Homo sapiens: one gene and its partner. The protein of the gene in region 2 interacts with the protein of the main gene of each other region in a pairwise test. Each region holds a gene or a part of one and is shown on either strand. Other genes may lie near its edges.

What was found.
Region 1: the proteins of SIPA1L2 (region 2) and AP3M1 interact in binary tests that used the Homo sapiens proteins (3 or more experiments, as listed by UniProt).

The regions. Positions count from the first base shown.
Region 1 is NC_000010.11:74,118,401-74,129,099, forward strand, and holds the end of AP3M1 (AP-3 complex subunit mu-1), read right to left. Parts: intron 7,956-10,699; coding exon 7,748-7,955; coding exon of another isoform or gene 7,726-7,747; intron 6,125-7,725; coding exon 5,980-6,124; intron 5,511-5,979; coding exon 5,410-5,510; 3' UTR 1,855-5,409; downstream 1-1,854. UniProt on the Homo sapiens protein: Part of the AP-3 complex, an adaptor-related complex which is not clathrin-associated. The complex is associated with the Golgi region as well as more peripheral structures.
Region 2 is NC_000001.11:232,626,914-232,638,281, forward strand, and holds the start of SIPA1L2 (signal-induced proliferation-associated 1-like protein 2), read right to left. Parts: upstream 3,221-11,368; 5' UTR 2,956-3,220; intron 1-2,955.

The DNA of each region.
Region 1 (10,699 bases), on a different chromosome or scaffold from region 2:
TGCACCCTCTATCCCAATAGGCAGACTGGGTTTCTAGCCCATGGACTTCACATAAGCTCAGAATCCAAGTGAACACTAGCCAGACACTCTGCTCTGCCCTTGTTCCCTAGGGGACACTTCCCTCTGTTTCTCTTTCCTTGGCTCCCATTCACTCTTCCAGAATCCCAAGACCCAGGGCCCAGGCAAATCAGTTACTAAGAAGAAAATTGCTGTGCCTCCCAAAATTGTTTTGAGCTTTCCATGTTGCTGCCAACCATACCTTCCTTCCCTGGGCTGTGCTACCTGGGTCCTTTTCAGAAGTGAGCTTTGCTGCTACAGGGGAAGGTGGCCTCTGTGGAGCCCCAGCATATGGGGGCCTGGATTCATTTCCTGCCCTTCCTCAGTTTAATCCTTCTAGTTTCCCACAATATAAAACTGTACTTCACTGTCAGGAAGAAATCACAGAATCATATGATTCTGCTTTTACCATGCCCCTGAGCAATGTCTGTGCTAGGGAAACTTCCCGTCCCATATCCTGCCTCAGCCCGCCAAGGTAGCCATCCCATGAACACACTGTGTCCTGGTGCTCTCTGCCACTGGAAGGGCAGAGTAGCCAGGGTGTGGCCCTGCCATCTTCCCAGCAGGGCCACTCCCGGCACTCCATGCTTAGTCACTGCCTGCAGAGGTCTGTGCTGAGGCCTTATCATTCATTCTTAGCTCTTAATTGTTCATTTTGAGCTGAAATGCTGCATTTTAATTTTAACCAAAACATGTCTCCTATCCTGGTTTTTGTAGCCTTCCTCCACATCCTTTCTAAACAAGATTTTAAAGACATGTAGGTGTTTGTTCATCTGTAACTCTAAAAGATCCTTTTTAAATTCAGTCCTAAGAAAGAGGAGTGCTTGTCCCCTAAGAGTGTTTAATGGCAAGGCAGCCCTGTCTGAAGGACACTTCCTGCCTAAGGGAGAGTGGTATTTGCAGACTAGAATTCTAGTGCTGCTGAAGATGAATCAATGGGAAATACTACTCCTGTAATTCCTACCTCCCTGCAACCAACTACAACCAAGCTCTCTGCATCTACTCCCAAGTATGGGGTTCAAGAGAGTAATGGGTTTCATATTTCTTATCACCACAGTAAGTTCCTACTAGGCAAAATGAGAGGGCAGTGTTTCCTTTTTGGTACTTATTACTGCTAAGTATTTCCCAGCACATGAAACCTTATTTTTTCCCAAAGCCAGAACCAGATGAGTAAAGGAGTAAGAACCTTGCCTGAACATCCTTCCTTCCCACCCATCGCTGTGTGTTAGTTCCCAACATCGAATGTGTACAACTTAAGTTGGTCCTTTACACTCAGGCTTTCACTATTTCCTTTATAATGAGGATGATTATTTTCAAGGCCCTCAGCATATTTGTATAGTTGCTTGCCTGATATAAATGCAATATTAATGCCTTTAAAGTATGAATCTATGCCAAAGATCACTTGTTGTTTTACTAAAGAAAGATTACTTAGAGGAAATAAGAAAAATCATGTTTGCTCTCCCGGTTCTTCCAGTGGTTTGAGACACTGGTTTACACTTTATGCCGGATGTGCTTTTCTCCAATATCAGTGCTCGAGACACAGTGAAGCAAATTAAAAAAAAAAAAAAAAAAAATCCCTGAATGATGATTAGAGACATCACCGCTAAAAAACTACATTTATAAGCTAGGATTTGTTATATGCAAATATTTTCTGCCTCTTCTTTTGTTCTGTTTAAAACAATAAAATGCATTTGTATAAAAAATGCTTTAAATGATGGATATGTTACTTTAGCAAGAACTTTTAGGTCAGGTTTCTCCTTTGTTTTGATGAATAGTCAATGAAACTAATCCTCAAGATCTGGAAACTAAAGATTTTTATTTAATCCAAATGTTGCACTGGAAGAAGAAATCAACAGTGGTATATTTACTTAACAAGGATGTGTGTAATACAAGACAACCCTGGGGATTACACACTTGAAGGAATGGAAGTGGCAAAGGTTAACAGGCAGAAAGCAGCTGGATGAAACAGTTTATTTTCATCTTAGAAGATTCTAGCTATCTGTGGAGACCACCACTGTTCCCCGAAAAGCTAAAGTTGTTAAGTTTGTAGGAGTACCACAGGTCCTTCCCCCTGCTGCAAGACAGAGACTTGCTCTGTTGCCCAGGCTGCAGTGCAGTGGTGCAATCTCAGCTCACTGCAACCTCTGCCTCCCGGGTTCAAGCAATTCTCCTGCCTCAGCCTCCCATGTAGCTGGGATTACAGGTGTGCGCCACCATGCCTGGCTAATTTTTGTATTTTTAGTAGAGATGGAGTTTCACCATGTTGGCCAGGCTGGTCTCGAACTCCTGACCTCAAGTGATCCGCCCACCTTGACCTCCCAAAGTGCTGGGATTACAGGTGTGATCCACCACGCCCGGCCACACAGGTCCATTTTTCATATTCCAAAGCCCAGTATAGAATAAATAGGGTTTTCAGGGATCCACCAGGGCTATAAAACAGAGTTAGCTTTTGGGGACATAGTCCTCTTCTTCCTTAAAGAAACACTGACTAAAATAGTAGGAGCAGGTTTTTAGAGTAGAGTTGGGACATCACTTTTTCCCTGATTTTCTAGATCTGAAAGGGGTAACATGTCATTAAAGGGTGATGATATTGATATTTAGTGTTGCCAACTGCTATTATCACTGCTTTATCTTGGAAAGTTGCCGACTATAAAGACAGATTCCAGCCTGCTTGAGTTAAGGGAAAGGCCAAGGCTGCTACTGAATTAGCAGTTTCTAAAACTGTCTTGTTTTTGCCATTTACCATATGTTCACTGGTGCTGCCTTCCTGCTGTAGTATAATCATTTTCTCAAATCAGTTGCCTCTCAGGACAAGATCAGCATTTTCCTAGGGTCCTTCTGTAGCACCACTTAAGGAATGAACCTATCACAGGAACTCCCTTTGAATAAAATGATGGTGACTCCCACACGCAGGAAAGAATCATTTACTTCATTTGCTCTTGATATACTCCCTTATGAATTTAGAACAAGTGATCCAGGATTAGCTGTAACTCTGTGCTTGAAAAATATTTTACTACTACTAAGTATTCAGAAATCTTTGTTATCAGTAGGTGGTGGTAGTGATAGGGAAGGGAGCTTTGATCACTAATCTCTCAGACTGTGGCCAGAATGGTGATGCTTAAGCCAAGTATGAATGGCTATTAACATACTGAGGTTAGGGAAGGAGTACTGAGAAGTGCTTTGCAGCAACACTCGCAGCTTGTGTGATGATGCAGAAGAAAATCTGATCATGTTCACCCTGCTTTGACAATGAGCCTTGCCCATTGGAGAATGTTCAATCAATAGTAGACCTAAAAAAAATCAACTTGTTGCTTTCATCTTTTTATTGATAGCACAGCCAGAGCTACCAAAATGATTTACTGGATTCTAGCAAATTAATAAATACAGTAATTTGATTGTAAAAGGAAACATTCTACTTGGACATTTTAGTAGAAATTGCTAGAGGGAAGGAGCTCCTGGCGTACATTCTACTTGGATAGAAGAGAAGATAGCACAGGAGGAGAACTGGACAGTCCAGGTATAGATTGTTGAGATTAGGGATTCAGCAGAAAGCAAAGCAAATGTTCTCATTGTTCTTTTGAGGTACGAACTCTGAAGAGTCAAGACATTAAAAATAAAAAGCAATTGAACCGGGTAGCCAAACTTAGGCAAAAGGAATAAATATTTGGCAACATTTTGACTTTAACTGCCAATCTGAGATTAGTTTCTTCAGAAATTTGGAAGCTGCAAAACGTTGCCTTTCTTATTCCATGAAAGGCAGGGCAGGCAAAGGTAAGAAAACTGCTGAGTGGGCTCCTTGTACCAGCACCAACCAGCAGCCCTTGACAGCATAGATGGGATGAGTGTAAGGGCTATCCTTAGCATAAGGGAAAGACGGTTATAAGCTGAGAAGATTGAAAGAAGAATGGAGCCACAAAGAGAATAGCATAAATAACAAGAAGGAAACATGAAGAACAAGCACTTAAGATATTAACTTTCAGTCTTTCTCCATTTCTTGATGTCTAATGAGGCAAAATAACTGGGCAAGGACCACCAAGATGAAGAAGTTAAATAAAATGTCACAATGAAATTGAGTGCAATAATACAACTGTTGACTGACTTTCCAAAACCACGGTGATCGGTAGAGTATCATCAATGTTACCGAGGATTTTGTTTCTGCCTCATTATAACTCACTTCCATGTATTTTGTCAGTATAGTACGTATATTTAAGCACTCCAGTGACAATTATGACAATAGTTTCTGGAAGAAATCTATGACTATAGCTTTGGGAAGCACACAATATGAAAAGGGAATTTCCCCTAAAGACAAGGAATGCAGACAAATTCAAACCCTTAAGAACAACAACAAAAAAGATTTAAAAAGACTGATGACTGTGAGGCAGGCACATTTTCCTCCTTTTGCTGAACTGGGGCATGAGGCATTTAGGTTAACCATGGCTTAACTGGTGTTGGGTAAGCTTTATATTATAAAACATGAAGATGGCAAAGGTTTCACTTAAGTTTTTCTTTTACTACTTTAATTTGCTTAAAAGCACAAATGCTTGTGCTTGCAGTAACTTCCTAAAAGCAGAAGTAATGTTCCCTTTTACTACCTTAATAAAGCATTTGCCCCTTTGATACAAATGATTTTTTTACTGTGCTAACAGCTGAACCAGTGGCACAAAATTGAGATGGTATTTACTGCAGCAAGGTCCCTGTAAATCAAATTCTAAGCTTTACATAAAAATCTTATTTATAAAAAATACAATACCAAGTACAGTGAGAATGGAGCATGGAGCAGCAGTGCTCCCTGCCAGGGCCATGTGGAAGTGGCTTTTGCTACAGTGCTTGCTTAATGGCACAAGTGAAAAGCTGAATAAGGCAAACACTTGAAGAGGCAGTTTTCTGTAAACTTCTGGGGGTGGGGGGAATTTCCTCTCGGGACAGATACTGGTTTGGGATGGCTAAGATCAGAAGGTGTGATATTTGGCTGCACCTGACACATCACAGATTTAAGATAGCTTCTGCTGGATGAGACCAGTTAACTCTTTTAGGAGAGAGGTTATCACTACAGCTTTCTGCCTTTACTGTTACAATGTGCAGCCGCCAGATGGTATCCTCCTATGGAAAAAAATCACCTCCAAAATCTTCCTAAGTGAAAAGATACAAAATAAGCTAAGTCACTAAAAGGTTTCCTTAGCTTAAAGCTCCTTAAGAATCCTACATTGATAACTAAGTAACTTTGTTAGCGGTGTGTAGCTAGACACAAATGCTTTAACTAGAATATGTATTCCCACTCACTTGGTACCTAATAGTGATACATCGTAATGACACTTGGAAAACAAACTGGTCCTGAGGAATTTTGGCCTCTTCTCATGTCCTCACTTGGAACTTTCCAGCTTTCGTGACGTATTTGACTCCTTTAAATGGCTTATATTTCTCCCCATACATGTCCAAACGGTTTACTTTTAAGCCTGTATCAAAAAGAATGAAAAAGAATAAATTATCATCATCCCAACCAATATAATGTTAGCAATGAGCGCTATATGGTAAATCTGACATTAACCAGTGTCCCTTCCACCATTTGGAAGAAATGTCTCTTCTATCATTTACAAATTATTGCACTTTGATGGTATGGTTTTGGTTAAGATTCCCACACAGGCAGGGAATGTCTGTGAAGTATAATTCTACTTTCTGTGAATATGAATAACTCTCTTTTTGGTGCTTAAATGAGGGCGGAGGTGAGGGGAAGCTGTTTGAAATAAGGTGCTCTGAAAAATCATTTGGTCGGTGCCTGTGAGACTGCCCCACCAAGCACAGTATAAAAGGCAAATGGGCTACTGCTCTTTCTAGAGAAGGAAACTTTTGTTACTCTTCTAAATGCCTAATAAATGAGCTTGCAAAACTCAATTACCCTTAACTACAAGTCAACCTTATCCTTACCTGAAATAGCAAGCTGCTGGATCTTAAACTGTATGTTGAGGCTCGGATTCTCTTCTGGTTTGGGGGCTCCAGACTGTAAATTTACCAGTCCTTTAAGACTTGGGAGCTTTTGTGGAGTAATTTTTCCCACATCCCATGTTAGTACCTTAAAAAGACAAAAAATGAAAAACAAATAGAACCATTTATTAAAGACAAACCCTCAAAAACAAAGTTCAAAGATATCATAAACTTCTGTACAAACTGAAGTGCAGTCTCTTGAAAACAAGAGATCTGGCATCTACAGTGAGTTTACCTCTGATTAATTCTGTGACTTTGAATGGGGAGTGAGAGCAGAGAATCTACATTTGTTGAGCATTTTCTTTTGTATTAGCACCGTGCTTAGCATTATTCATATGTTGTCTCATTGAGGGCTGTGAAGTAGCTTTTGTCTTCTATTTACAAATGAGGAAATTAAAGCTCAGAGGACATTAAGGCTCAGAGATCAAATGACTCGCTCAAGGTCACATAGTTAGTCAGAGGTAAGGCTGGGATTTGAACCTAAGGCCCTCTGATTTCAAATGTTCTCCATCATAACCATCTTCACTTTTCTCTGGGCCTGTTTCTTTTTCTTTTTTTTTTGAGACAGAGTTTCACTCTTGTTGCCTAGGATGGAGTGCAATGGTGCAATCTTGGCTCACCACAAACTCTGCCTCCCAGGTTCAAGCGATGCTCCTGCCTCAGCCTCCCAAGCAGCTGGGATACAGGCATGCGCCACCATGCCCAGCTAATTTTGTAGTTTTAGTAGAGATGGGGTTTCTCCATGTTGGTCAGGCTGGTCTCGAACTCCTGACCTCAGGTGATCCACCCACCTCGGCCTCCCAAAGTGCTGGGATTACAGGCGTAAGCCACTGCGCCCAGCCTCTGTTTATTTTTCTGTAAAATAATTAGATTGACTTAAGATGGTGTTTTTAAAACTTTTAGCTGTGAAACCCATTGTTCAAATGAAATCTTCGGTGTGAAGGCTCAACAGCAGATGAGAAAGAAAGCAAAGCTGTCATAGTTGAAGCTGTGGTAAAGGGCCAGGAATCTGAAGCTCCCTTTCTCAGCCCTGTGTGGTCTCCAGGAGGAGGTTCTTTGAATCCTTACAACTGTATTAAATAATCTTTAACATTCTATGATGTTATTCAAAAAACATGTCTTTTCATTTATCAGGTAGCTCAATGACTCTGCTATTGAAAACAATCATATTTACCAGCTAATCAGGAAGCTGAGAGAAAATCATCTGCTACAGTTTCTCTGAAAACCCTCTGTTACACAAAAATTTAAGTAGAGTGAGGAAGCAACTTTCCTAGCCCTGTGAAAGAGTATGAAATAATGCTTTTAAATTATAAAGGAAGAAAAAGGTCTTAGTGATCAATTTATATAGAAAACTTAGTAATTCATAGACCATCATAATATCTTCTTCAATCTACATAATGTTTTCTCTTTTTAAAAAAGCTTTTACTTCTTTCTTATTAGATAGCAGAGTCAGGCTCTGGATTAATAATGGATGAGTGAAGGCACACTCTGAAAAAGGACAGAATGACACATTTTTCTGTTCATCTACTCAGTAGCAGCTGCAGGATTCCTTCTGCAGCCAGTGGCAGAAGCACAGCACAGTATGCTCTCTAGGTTTTGATACGAACTTTAGTTTTAAACAAGGTGCCAAACCTTTCCCTCCATTCCTCCCCACAAATCACAAAATAGATTGCAGAAACACTTGCTCACTCTTGATTTGAAGTGGCTGTACCTTGGTGACTGGATCAAATGTATAGCTGCCTTGTGTGGGTGTCAGGTTCATGTTCAGCACAACTTTTGGCATGTGAACTGTCACTGTAATTCCTTCAATAGTTTTCCCCATATTCTGCTTTGGTCCAATTGTTATATCAAATCTGCCGCAAGAACTGTTCTCCTTAAAGCTGATACTATGTTTCACATACACTGGTATTGCCACTAGACTAAAAAGAGAAACAGAGAAAGATACAAAAGCACAAACACAATTAATGGTGTGGGGAGAGCTCCAGAGGTATCCTGAAAACCTCTGTCCAGAGTATCCTACCCTGCCTTTAACTCCACAATAAGGTACTACAGAGTTGGCTCTCTGTAGCCACAGTTCTGCATCCTTGAATTTGACCAGCTGAGGATTGAAAATATTATTTCACAAAATTGGCCAGGCGTGGTGGCTCATGCCTGTAATCCCAGCACTTTGGGAGGCCGAGACCAGGGTTGGGAGGGGATCACCTGAGGTCAGGAGTTTGAGACCAGCCTGGCCAACATGATGAAACCTCGTCTCTACAAAAATTAGCTAGGGCTGGGCGCGGTGGCTCACACCTGTAATCTCAGTACTTTGGGAGGCTGAGGTGAGGAGTTCAAGACCAGCCTGGCCAACATGGTGAAACCTCGTCTCTACTAAAAATACAAAAATTAGCTGGGTGTGGTGGCTCATGCCTGTAGTCCCAGCTATTTGGAAGCCTGAGGCAGGAGAATCGCTTGAACCTGGGAAGCGGAGATTGCAGTGAGCTGAGATCGTGCCACTGCACTCCAGCCTGGGCAAAGGAGCGAGACGCCATCTCAAAAAAAAAAAAAAAAAAAAAAAAAAAAAAAGTAAAAAATAACAATATAACTACAATAAAAATAAAAAGTCAACATGGTATAACAATTATTTACACAGTGTTTACAGTGTACTATCACAAGTAACTTGGAGATGATTTAAAGTATACAGGAGGATGTGCATAGGTTATATGCAAATACTACACCATTTTATGTAAGGGACTCGAGCATCTGCTGATTTTTGCAACCAGTCCTCCAAGGATACCAAGATGGCAGTACCTCTAGAACTGCAGATTCAGTATCTACACAAGGGGGAGCTGAGTACAGCATAATGTTCTTGTACCACTGTGCTGGGAACTGTATACAAATCAAGACAGAAATCTGAAGTTTAATAACAGTATAAACAATTGGGGTGGCTGGGTGCAGTGGCTCACACCTGTAATCCCAGCACTTTGGGAGGCCAAGGCAGGCAGATCACTGGAGGTCAGGAGTTTGAGACCAGCCTGGCCAACATGGTGAAATCCCCTCTCTAATAAAAAAAAAAAATAACAAAAAACAAAAATTAGCTGGGCGCGGTGGCAGGTGCCTGTAATCCCAGCTACTTGGGAGGCTGAGGCAGGAGAATCGCTTGAACCCAGGAGGTAGAGGTTGCAGTGAGCCAAGATCACACCATTGCACTCCAGCCTGGGTGACAATAGTGAAACTCCGTCTCAAAACAAACAAACAAAACAAAATAACATAAAACAAACAAACAAAAACAATTGGGGCAAATGGCCCTAGTTTAAAATGAATTATGATCCCACTGAAAAATAATGTAAAATATGTTTTATATAAATGAAAACAGTTCCTATGTGATAAGAGCCAAGAAACAGGCCAGGCACGGTGGCTCACGCCTGTAATCCCAGCACTTTGGGAGGCTGAGGTGGGCAGATCACCTGAGGTCTGGAGTTCGAGACCAGTCTGACCAACATGGAATAACCCCGCCTCTACTAAAAACACAAAATTAGCCGGGTGTGGTGGTGCATGCCTGTAATCCCAGCTACTTGGGAGGCCGAGGCAGGAGAATCACTTGAACCCTGGAGGTGGAGGTTGCAGTAAGCCGAGATTTCACCATTGCACTCCAGCCTGAGCAACAAGAGCCAAACTCCGGCTTAAAAAAAAAAAAAAAAAAAAAAAAGGAAAAGAAAAGAGCCGAGAAATAATTTCTCTGTTTTTGAGTTCTGTCATGATGTTACTCAAATAACTTTTGGTATTTTCAAGAAACAAACTACCTATAACTCCGATCCCCAATGCTAAATTTTTTTTTTTTTTGAGATGGAGTTTTACCCTGTTGGCCAGGCTGTAGTGCAGTGGTGTGATCTGTCACTGCAACCTCTGCCTTCCAGGTTCAAGTGATTCTCATGCCTCAGCCTCCTAAGTAGTTGAGATTATATAGGCACACGCTACCACGCCTGGCTAATTTTGTGTTTTTAGTAGAGACAGGGTTTCACCATGTTGACCAGACTGGTCTAGAACTCTTGACCCCAAGTGATCTGCCCACATTGGCCTCCCAAAGTGTTGGGATTACAGGAGTGAACCACTGCACCCGGCCCCTCAATGCTAAACAGTTCCTTAAAAACTCAACGCAGAGAAGACGTACTTGAAGCAGGTAAATTGGGGAATGTCCTCACGAACTACAGGTAGGTCTGTCTCCTTGTTGGCCACAAACTCTACAGACTATGGTAAGATTATGGCAATGGTTCATGGTTTTGCCCAGGTTATGCATGGTCCGTTTTGCTCTGCTTGCAAAGTACTCAGCTTTCAGAAGCAGAGCAAAATGGACCATGCATAACCTGAGCAAAGAACCAGTGCCATAATTTGACCATGCATAACCTTGCAAAGGACCGGTACCACAATTTTTGCCCAGGTTATGTATGGTTTGCTTGTTCTTGGCTATAGATTTTACTCTAGTCTCACTTAGTACCACTCTACACTCATACATTCAAAGTATACGGATTATTTTAGGTGCGTATTTTCACCCGTTCTCACTGGGTCTCCTGGTGAGCTATGGTTAAAGTGAGCAGTGATGACCTCAAGTACTCAACTTTCAGAAAGAAACAGGGAAAGGTGAGTTGTACTTGATATGTATGATGGCAGATTCTGGCTGATGCAT
Region 2 (11,368 bases):
TCCTGTCTGTGCCTAAAGCTTTTTCTACTCTCACTCTGCAAATGAATTAGGCACATTAACAGAAGTAGAAAACCTAGAACATGGTTCACTATTCTCTAGGACTGTACTTTGTATTTCATTGAAGTTCAAAACAGAAAGAAAAAAAAAAGCAGCTTTTCAATTAACAATACCCTAGTCTAAATTTTCTTCAAATTCAGTGTGTCTTTAAAAGGATTTGTAATCCTCAACTACCACCATAAATTGATCAGAAGTTCAAAAACTCAATGCCTTCCTCAATCTCAAAAAATAACGCTGCATTTACCAATTATGGTTGGGGGCAAGGGGCTGTATCCACATAAACACATAGTTCTTTGCAAAGTATGCAGGAAACACAATCCCTTTAAACTAGTTTCGATGCCCAAACACAGTGCTTTTAAACCAGTTTCAATTACCAAACAACTGGTTTTTCAGGGTAGCTAGTATTTCCTTACTTTCAGAAATAGACTGCTAATTTCAAAATAATAACCCGCTTCTCCTTTGCCTCAGGTAAAAAGATCCCCAAGGTGGACAAGTGTTTACTAAGCTCAGGTATCAAGGAACCCTTCAAAACACCATCCCAGTCTTGCGGGGTGAGGGGGAGAAAAAAAAAAACACCTTCCAAATCCATATTACACAGCTTTAACTACAGTAAGCATCATAGAAGCCAAATCATGATCTGATAATTCCCTTATTAGACTAAAAGTTACATTCCATACAATTAAAGCTCTTTGAGAAAATCTATGATTTCAAAACATAAAAAGCATCTAATGAAAAACATATACTTAAAGCAACTGGGTAAAATCTGTGGCCCATACTAAAAGCCAGAAGCTCCACCCCCATACCTGTGATCTAGCTCTTGCTTTTCCGGATCAAGTGCTTACACTGCTTCTTATCCAGGTTCATTTCACCCCATCTATAGGTAGAATGTGGGTACTGATAAAAGCTGTTTCTGATTTCATTTCCTACTTCCCAGATGTTTGCTCTGTAGTTTTTCTTCTTTTTCCTTCAGCTATTTATGAATACACTCTAATTTAGAACAAATTCAGTATGTCTTATTTTAAGCTGGGCAAGGCACACAATAAATGATAGCTACAAAGATAATTTCAAGATATTTACTCAGCGTATAAATAAGTTTGCCTACCTAGGCAAGATTTGGACAGGCTGCCGTGATCTTGCTTTAGAATAAAAGTGCTTAAAAACATAACTGGGAGCCTGCTGCTGCTGCTGCTGCTGTTACTGCTGAAACTACGGGCTATTGTGCTTGTCATAAAAGGGCTTGTGCTTAGAAATGAAAAAATCAAACATCCTCTGGGGAGATGTCCCTAACACAATCCCTGGTATGAATCATGCAGATACTTTAACTGCATCTCTTCCCAAAATGGATCAATGGAATCTTTTAGGAAGAATCAATGTGATTTATACCCAAAACTTAAGAAAGACTGCATTTTTCTCATGAATAATACTCTCTTATAACTCTGAATCAAGCAGTGAAATTCAATCAAGCGGTAAACATCTTTTAACTGGAAATATTGTCTAAACAGAATGACAAAACTAACAGAACTCTGAATTCTTTAAATAAGTCCAAACATGAAACAAGCATTCTTAAATGATGTAACTAAATACAGTAACCAAGTTGTCTCTTGAAATTCAACTTTGGGAATGCCAAAAATAATAGGCCACCTCTCAATATCCGCAAAAATATCGGTATGTGTAGGTTTTCTAGGAAAGCAATAAAAAGCAACAGTTTGGGAGATCTTTTTTCTTCAATTACTAATTGTAACACTAGAAAAATTACAACCTAGGCTGCACACAAACGCGACTCAAATGGGCAGTTTACTAAATGTCTGTCATAAGAAAGCCATCTAGTGTTAACGTTTAGAATGGAGACTGCAGACAAAAGAGGCAAAGAAAAGAAAAATCTGTGCGACTATTTTGAACTTACTGGGCAAAGACATGAGAATCACCAAGATTCTTTGAGGGTTTTTTTCCTTGTTTTTTTTAAAAAAAAGCCATCCTTGTCAAAACCCAGTCTCAATCTAACCAAAATCCAAAATGTCTACAATTTTGTTTTGACCAAAATCATGTTTTGGTGAGCACAATTCCGTAACCAATGCACTTGATTTTTTCCAATACTCAGGCCAGAGTCATCTTGGGCTGAATTAATTTAACTCAAGCAGGTTAATGATGACAAATATCTCCCACAGGGGTAATGCCAAGTTGTTCTCTCTTTCCGAGAAGCCTCGGCTCTCTCTTGCAGATGATGAGCCGAAATTGATTCTTTGGGTTTGCGGCACGGCTGAAAATTAATCTGTAGGTGTTCCCAGGGATATTCCCAGGACGTGGGCAAACTACCCTCACTGACACGGGAAGACCCGGAGAGGCCCAGGAGCTGGCAAAGTGGGAAGAAAGGTCGCGGTGAGTGAGAAGAGCGCTCGCCGGAGGCTCCCGGTCTTACAAAGAGGGATCCGTCCCGGTGAGGGCGCGCGCTCCGGGCGCACCCCCTCTAGAAGGGGAATTAGCCCCGCAGCAAGTTCGGCGTCAGCTGGCCAGGCGCGCCGGGGAAGCTGCGTCGGGCAACCGCGAGCCCTTCCAGAGAGCGTTAGTCAGAGCGAAGTTCTGGGCACCTGGAGAAGACCCTCCTCAGTGCCTGTGTCGCCGAGACGGGAATAACCTTTCAGCCGATCGATAACTTGGAGAGAACAGGCGGCGGCGGCTCCTCTTCCAGCCGGGGATCGGGAGCGCGGGCGCATCTGCGTCTACAAGCCGGACCCTGCGCCGCGACCCTCGCACCCCCGCGCCCCTCGCACCCCTCGCCGCCGTCAGCCCCCCAAAGCGCCCCGAAGGGCATCCCCTTCCCCTTCGGGACAGTCCCCGCCTGGCCGCAGGCATCCCGAACCGACCCTCGCCACGCTGCCCGTCGGATTCCCCGACACGAACCTTCGCAACGCCGTCCGCCGGAACCTGCTACAGCCTGTGCGCGCCGGGCGGCGCGTACCCGGGCTGCCGCCTCGCCGCCCGCCGCTGCCCGGGGCTGCCCATCGGCCCGGACTCTCCCCGCGCCGGGCTCCGGCGGAGGCGGCCCGGACCCGCTGGCTGCGGCTGGAGCTCTCGGCCTGCGCTCGGGCGGCCGGCGGGGGCGCGGTGCTCCTCCTCCGTCCTCCTCCTCCTCTCGCTCCGCCAGCTCCTCCCGGGCTCCCAGTCTGCCGCGCCGGCTCCCGATGCCACCGCCCGCCCGCCCAGCGGCACCGCCCCCCGCCCGCTCTGCGGGCTCCCATTGGTCGCTGCCTGCAGGCCCCCTCGGCCCCGCCCCACGATTGGGCGCGGACGCCGTCAGTCTCACCGTCCGCCCGGCTCCGGGCGCAGCCGGTGCGCTGTTCCCAGGCCCCGCGGCGCGCGGGAGCTGCGCGTCCAGGAGGGGCCCGGACGCCCTTCTTGGGGAGGGGGCTGCGGGGCGCATCATGAGCGGCGCTGGGCGAGCTCGAGGGCCGGGCAGCCTACCTGGACCCCGGCTTCTAGAGAGCCGTCGCCGTCCTTGTCGAGACTCGCTTTCGCCCCTCTGAGGAATAAGTTAAAAACCGCGAGTCTGGTTCTGAGCCGCCCCCTGGCGCAGGCGCGACCCCACCCGGCCCTCCCGTCTCCCAACTTGGGACAGACGCGGCGGCCGGGCGGTCGGATCCGTGAGCCTCGGCCGCTGGGGCTACATACACAGCCCAGGACGCCACAGAATCGCCGAGGCCCCGCGAACGCCCAAACGGCCGCAAGTCGAAGTGATCCCATCTGAAGAAGACAGCGCGAGGAAGCGAGACCCTGCTGTGTGCCGGCCCCCGGAGGGCGCCCCGGGCCCTGTGGGTCGGAGGGTGGGGAAGCACAGAGAAACACGCAGGCAGTAAAACGTTAGGAGGACAGGGGGTGCCAGCGTGCAGGAAATGCTGCTAAGAGACCTTTAGGAGCCAAGGGGAAAACGGAGAGATTGGCAGTTCCAGGCACCCACATCCCAGCGCGGTCCGCTCACCCCTTCCTCCCTGCCCTCCAGGCAGCGCTCAGCCCACGGTAGAAATGTCTTGCATCTTTTTTCCGACGAGGAAGAATTGAACTTTTTATACCCAACTTTTCTGCTTTCTTAGAAATGTTGACTCACCTGTGAGGAAGCATTATTTGAAACTATTATTGTAAATTGCTTGACATTTGAATTAGATGCTGAAAGATTAAAGGGTCTCAGAAGAATCTTTTAAGCTAGACTGGAATTGACTCTGCCTAAATGGACAGCAACAGTCATCTATACGCAGGAATAATAAAGCAGGTGGAGGCAGCCTCTAACTTACCTTCCAGCCACACCGTAGAATTTCCTGAGCAGGCTTTTTTGTCAGAGTTTTGAGCTGGGTTCCCTGAGACTGGATTGGGGCTTTCAGTTTCTCCCCTTCTAGAGTCAGACTTCTTCCTGAAGAAAAAGTGTTATCTCTACTTCCCTATCACAAACACTTCCTAGAACACAGCCCTGTTAAAAGGTAAATAGAGGCGGTCCTTCCCACACTATATTTCTCTGTGATCTGAAGCATGTACACATTATACAATCTTTCGTATCTTTTTAAATTATAGGTATAATCTGTGGGATTAGATATAACTAAACAGGTCAAGAAGCAATCCTGTGACATAATACAATTCCTGAGCACTCCAGGTTTTGATGAGTTTCCCAATTGTCACCCCATTATCAGCATTTACAAGATTGTCATGTATTCATTTAACAAACATTTATGAAGCCGGGCGCGGTGGCTCAAGCCTGTAATCCCAGCACTTTGGGAGGCTGAGGCGGGAGGATCACAAGGTCAGGAGATCAGGATCTTCCTGGCTAACACGGTGAAACCCAGTCTCTACTAAAAATACAAAAAATTAGCCGGGCGTGGTGGCAGGCGCCTGTGGTGGCAGGCACCTGTAGTCCCAGCTACTCGGGTGGCTGAGGCAAGAGGATGGTGTGAACCCGGGATGTGGAGCTTGCAGTGAGCCGGGATCATGCCACTGCACGCCAGCCTGGGTGACAGAGTGAGACTCCGTCTCAAAAAAAAAAAAAAAAAAACAGATTTATGGAGATCCTCTGATGTTCCAGACCATACTAGGTGCTGGGAATATAAAATGCACAGGACATAAGGCTCGGCTTTTCAAGAGCTCACCAACTCACAGGTGTATCCTCATATGTTGTAGATACTCTACAAGAGGTATCAATGTTATCTCCTGTGTACTCAACAAAACCCTGCAGGAGGAGCAGCCGTGAAGGAACTTTTCCTGGGAGTGCCTAGGGAGGACATGATCACATTTCACCTTATTGCGTGTTTCATTGTCTATAAGGGCCTTGAGGAGAAGAACCACATCTCCTCCAGCATTTTGATCCCTAAGGCACAAATCCACTACAATCCGGAGCAGATCCTTGGTCAGTGGGTTGTCATTGAGGTGGGTCTTAACTGCTGCAGCTACAAATGTACACTGTCTAATAGATGAAGAGGAACCCATCCCTTTGATGTGTTCCTTAATATCCAGTACATAATGATCATATATGGAAGGAAGTCTGACCAGACACTCTTCGATGACGGTGTTAGCCACAATTCTCACTCTCTCACCTTCCCATCCCACTTCTTGTGCTTTCCAAACTAAAATTGAAATATCCTAAGCCCCACTACCAAGGTTGGCAGTATTTTTTTTAATGCCTGTAATTGATTGTGCAGAGTAAATATTTGTGTACGTTTATGAAGGTCCGTGGGAGTTTCTTACTTTCCCAGAACTCCACGTCACATGAGGCTGGCCTTCATCGGAATGTTCCTGCTTTCAACAAACAGGTCCTGAGTGAGCCCCTTTGCTGTGCAGAACAATGGTGATACATACAGGCGAGAGCAAAACCCACGAGGTGTCCACCTCACGGCCGACCACAAGAGATCCTCAAGAGACACATCTCAGGAATGATTCTGAACCTTCTTCACCAAATAAAATATTCCAGAAATAGTATTAGATTTAATGTGTGTGTCCCTCCTTGCTGGTCTTCCTAGCAGCAGCCTTCTTGTTTCTTGCCTTTTTAGGCAAACAGCCTGAAACTTAGCACAGACGGTGGAATTGCAGCACCTATGAAGATATCACTGCATCCTTTTTGCCTCAGGACATCTTACTGAAAATCATTCTATGTTAAAGCTATACATTTTGCTGAAATTTTGAAGACAAACATCAATGGTGAATTATAAACTTGTATTTGCCTAAAGGCTAGTGTGAACTTATCACTTTCGCCTTCCCCCAGGCCAAGATTTTCCCTCCCCTTGTTGCCCAAGCCTCACTTTCTATCCCTCAAAATTCTTCTTTCTCCTGTGAATTGCATCGTGTTCTAGGGGTTCCCAAAGAAACAAACTAAAGGGATTAATTCTTTTTTTTTTTTCTTTTTTCTTTTTTTGGCAGGGGATGGAGTCGCTTTGTCACCGAGGCTGGAGTGTGGTGGCATGATCTTGCCTCACTACAACCTCCGCCTCCCAGGTGCCAGTGATTCTCCTGCCTCAGCCTCCCAAGTAGCTGGGATTACAGGCACGCACCATCAAGCCCTGATAATTTTTCTATTTTTAGTAGACATGGGGTTTCAACACGTTGGCCAGGCTGGTCTGGAACTCCTGACCTCAAGTGATCCACCCATCTCGGCCTCCCAAAGTGCTGGGATTACAGGCGTGAGCCACCGCGCCCGGCCTAATTCTTTTTACAGTTTTCTTCCAGCACATCCACGCCTGAAATAATTCCAACATCAGTCTTACCTATTTTTCTCTAAGTGTAAAGAGAGCTGGAGTTCAAAGACATACCAACTGTCTACCCTGTTCCAAGGTTTTGCACTTCTTGGCTGACCTTGCCTGGTACTTCTAGCTATTTACGTTTGAATTTAGCAAAACGGGAGTTTTATTTTCTTGACACACTGCAGCAAGATTCTACCTACAGATGAAATGTGTACACTGTAATAAACCTGAATACCTAAGTTAAATAAGGGTTTACACTCCTATCCTTATTTCCTCCTTCCGTTTTCTATTACTAACCATCTTTTAATAAGTATTTCTTTTATGTCAAATGAAGATGTATAATTTGCAACAAATAGGCGTTGAACGCATATTACATTCAGGGTATTATATTGGACTCTAAGGACCCAAAGGGCAATATTTATTAGAGTATATGAATTTTATGATGAGGAGAAGAACTTGAGAGCAGGTGCTCGTGATCACCAATGAGTGGCGCCCACAGAGAGAGCAGGAGAGCCAGCCATCTGGCTTGGGCCAACCAGCAAAGGCCTGACCAAGGATGTGAAACTGGCCAGGCGAGAAGGAGAGAAGAGAGCACTCTACCCCTGGCAAGAGGAAGCACTGTGGGCGAAGACACAGGAGCTGCCTGTGTCAGGCATGTTTGAGAAACAGCGGTGCCCTTTGGCCAAGCACAGGCTTATTCACTTGTGTAACAAACACTTACATGGCACTTCATCCATGTCAGGTTCTGTTTTCCTCTTAGAAGGGAAGTCCTCACAGACAGACAAGCACATGGGTGCTGCTTCAACTTTTCTTTTCTTTCTTTTTTTTTTTTTTTTAAAGGAAACCTCTTACAACAGAAACATGTTTGAATATGGTCTTGTGAGGTAAATTAAGAAATACAAAGTTCTGCTGCAATTTTAAAAGAAATGGTTCAGCTGCAGCTCAGAAAGCTGGGTTACTGGCTTTAGTGTACTACCAGTCATGATAAAAAACAAAGCACATGTTTATCTTAAAATGAAAACCACTAGAATAACATAAAACCAATAGGACAACATAAATGATGTGCTAAGTACCCTATACTGTCCATAATAGCCTTAGAAGAAACCCATCTAATATAAAAGTCTCAGTTCTGTGGATATCTACGGAGGCCTACTCTGTGTTCAGTTCTGCTCTGGGGGATGCGGATTATTACAGATAAATAATGAGACGATCCTCAAGGAAATAAAATACTACCTAGCTGGGAGTTTCACAGAGGAAGCAATTTTCAGATTACTGCAAAGACAACACATTTAAAATGCCAACTTGAATTTAATGTTGTATAGATGTGTGACATGGAGATCTGGAATGGCCAATCCTGGATTGCGTGATTAAGGATCACTGACAAATATCCTTCAGAAGCGAAAAGTTTCTTGTGTTCTTAATCGCATGTTTCAGAAATTTAAAATCCAATGTTTGTCTTTGCTGCAATGTGTCCAATCTAATGTATCTCCAAGAATCTTCTAAGACAGGTGGGTTATTTCTTTTCTGATGATTCAAACTCTTGGCCGTAGCTATTTTACATTTTATACCCCTTGTTATCTCTTTCACTTTCTCTAGTCTCAGACCCACAGGTTAACAACTTGTACTAACTTTATCACTATGAGAGGTGTCTTCTGCCTCTTGCCTTACTTGGAAGGAAGGAGAGGGGAAGGAAGGAAAGGAAGGAAAGAAAAGAAAGAAAGAAGGAGGAAAGGAGGAAGAGATGGGGGAGAGAGAGAGGGAGGGAGGAAGGAGGGAGGAAGGAAGGAGGGAGGGAGGACAGAAGGGAGGGAAGGAAAAAGAAAAGAGAGGAAAGGAAGGAGAAGAGGAGGGAAGGAGAGGGAGAGAAGGAGAGAGGGAGGGAAGAAGAGAGGGAGGGAGGAAGGAAAACAGCTGAAGACACAGTAGGTCATCAGTGTTTGCCACTTGCTGCTGTCCTTCAAGGAGGAGACTGGAACTTTATATCCAGCACCTCACACAGAACCTGGCAAAAGACGTGGTCTTGATCGATATCTGATGAATGAATAGGGAGTGGGTGGATGGATTGCACTGAGAGAAAGTACTGTATTGATCTTTCTCTGTTCTTCCATAGCAGATTTAAAGTTTATGTCTTGATCTTCCAAATTTTATTTCTACTTGGGACAGACAGGATCCTTTAACGAGTGTTTTTGGTTCTACTTTTATGAAATAACAATAATAATGACATGTTAGTTGAATTGACCTATAGAGCATCTGCTATTCTACACCACTAGATGGCGTTTATCAATAGTAATGCTCAAAAGCACCACACATACTCTGCCGAGTAATAAATCTAAAGAAATCAGTACAGAAAAGGCATATACAGCATACACATATATGTATGTAGATTTACATTTTACATTTGATTTCTTTTTAATATTGGTTATGTATCTAGGGCTGCCTATAATTTGGCAAACCACTTCCTTTCCTAATTTTAACAGTCTTATGTAAGAACAGTTTAGGTTCTTAATTAAACTCTAAGCAGCCTCAATGTGTAAGACATTTCACAGAACCTGGTGACTACTTCCAGGTCTTTCTGCAGTGCTGATGGAAAAACACACCCCCTGGGAAAAAATAATCTAGAAAAAGTTGAAAGCAATATGGAGAAAATAAAAAAAAGCAGATAGACTGTTCTGCCTGCCTTCATCATTCGTTCATTCATTTATTCATTTAACAACTAGGGACTGGACACCCAGTATTAAATACTTTGGAGGATGTGTTTGCTGTCTCATAAAGAAAAACTGTCAGAACACTGACAGGAAAATGCTTATGATATTTAAATCCTATAAGGGGACAGATTTTTGTTTTTAAAAAATTAAGAGTTATAAGGGAGAAATAGAGATACATTTGAAATGCTCTATCAAGACTATGTAGTTTCTGCTTTCCAGGTCCCAGGTGGATTAGCAAGGCCACATTTCCTCGTTCTAACATCTGGTTGTCTGCGAAATAGCTGCACTTGAGATTTCCTGGGGAGAGACCTAAGTGGGAAGGCAATTGAGGGAGAGAGATGGGAAGGAAGGGGAGCAAAGGAGCAGTGTGAGGAGGCAATCAGAGAGAAACATGAGAAGAGTGGCCAAGGGTTAGAAAGGTAAATCCTACCCACAAAATCTGAAAATTAAATCTTTGAAACTGCTTTGATGTGGAAAGAGCAAGCTCATACTCTATTTTAAGATTGTAGGAGTAAGGAGAAAAGGACCATAAAAGGAAACTGAAACACCTTAGCTCTCCTAATTCCAGTGTTTCCAGAAATTGTAAAATTAAGTGTCAACATTGCAAAAATGAACGCTGACTACTATGAAATTGTACTTATTTCCAGAAATGCAACAAATGACTAAGTATAGAGCCTGTGGCAGACACCATTTTCATCCTAAGTAAAGAGCCTGTGGCAGACACCATTTTCATCCTAAGTAAAGAGCCTGTGGCAGGCACCATTTTCATCCTAAGAGCTTTCGGCAGACACCATTTTCATCCACCTACAAAACACAGCAACAACAAAGGCCATCAGCATGTGACACTATTGCCTACAACTAAATGACCTAAAGCCAAATCTATCAAATTTTCCCGAAGGCTGGCAACCCTTGCTAGCCATGACATTTGTGATACAGATGTCACTCTGCTAAATACTAGACCAAGAGAGTTTTCTCTTGGATTCTTCTCTTTCTCTGCCTTCCGTGATCCAACAAGAACGATTCTGGTTTCCTCCAACGATCTCTCACACCAGCGTAGCCATCCTCCTTAGGTGTTTTTGTCCTTGAGTATGGACAACTCTCCTAAATAAGCTCTTCGTTTTCTTCCCCCTGGCTTCTAACGCACAGCTTAGATCCCTCCCATGCGCAGTTCACAATAAGGCTCATGCTCCTATGAGAATATGATGCTGCCACCGATCTGACAGGAGGCAGAGCTCTGGCAGTAATGCCAGTGATGGGAAGCAGCTGTGAATACAGATGAAGCCAGCCAGCCACTCACCTCCTGCGGTGCCACTTGGTTCCTAACAGGCCACAGACCCGGGGCCGGGGACCCCTGTTCTAAACCACCGGACACACAGTCCTTTAAGCACATAGATTTCCAGTTCACAATTCTTCTGGGCTTCCCATTGCATACTGAATAACATCAAAGTTCTCCTCACCTTCGTAACATTTACACATTCCATAGACTGCCTCCAACCTTAGTTTCCTGGATGGAACTCTCAGCAGTATTGACCACTGCAGAACACTTTCTCCTTCATGGAACATTCACCTTCCTTTGCCCCATTGTGCTACCTTCTCCTGGAACCCCTCCTTCCTCTCTGACACCTCCCTGCCTCTGAAACTCCTCTTCCTACCACCTTCACATCTGATGCACCTCAGGATTTCTCCTACCCTTCACCTGTTTCCTGACAAATCTCATCTTTTCCAATGTTTACAATTACAATCCTTGTGCTGGGACCCATGAACCAATATGGACAGCCTAGGAATGTATATTCAGCTCCCAGGAACCTAAGCATGCAGATAGATCGATATAGATATAGATAGATGTAGATATAGATATAGATATGTATCAGATGTCAACACTGCAAAAATGAACTC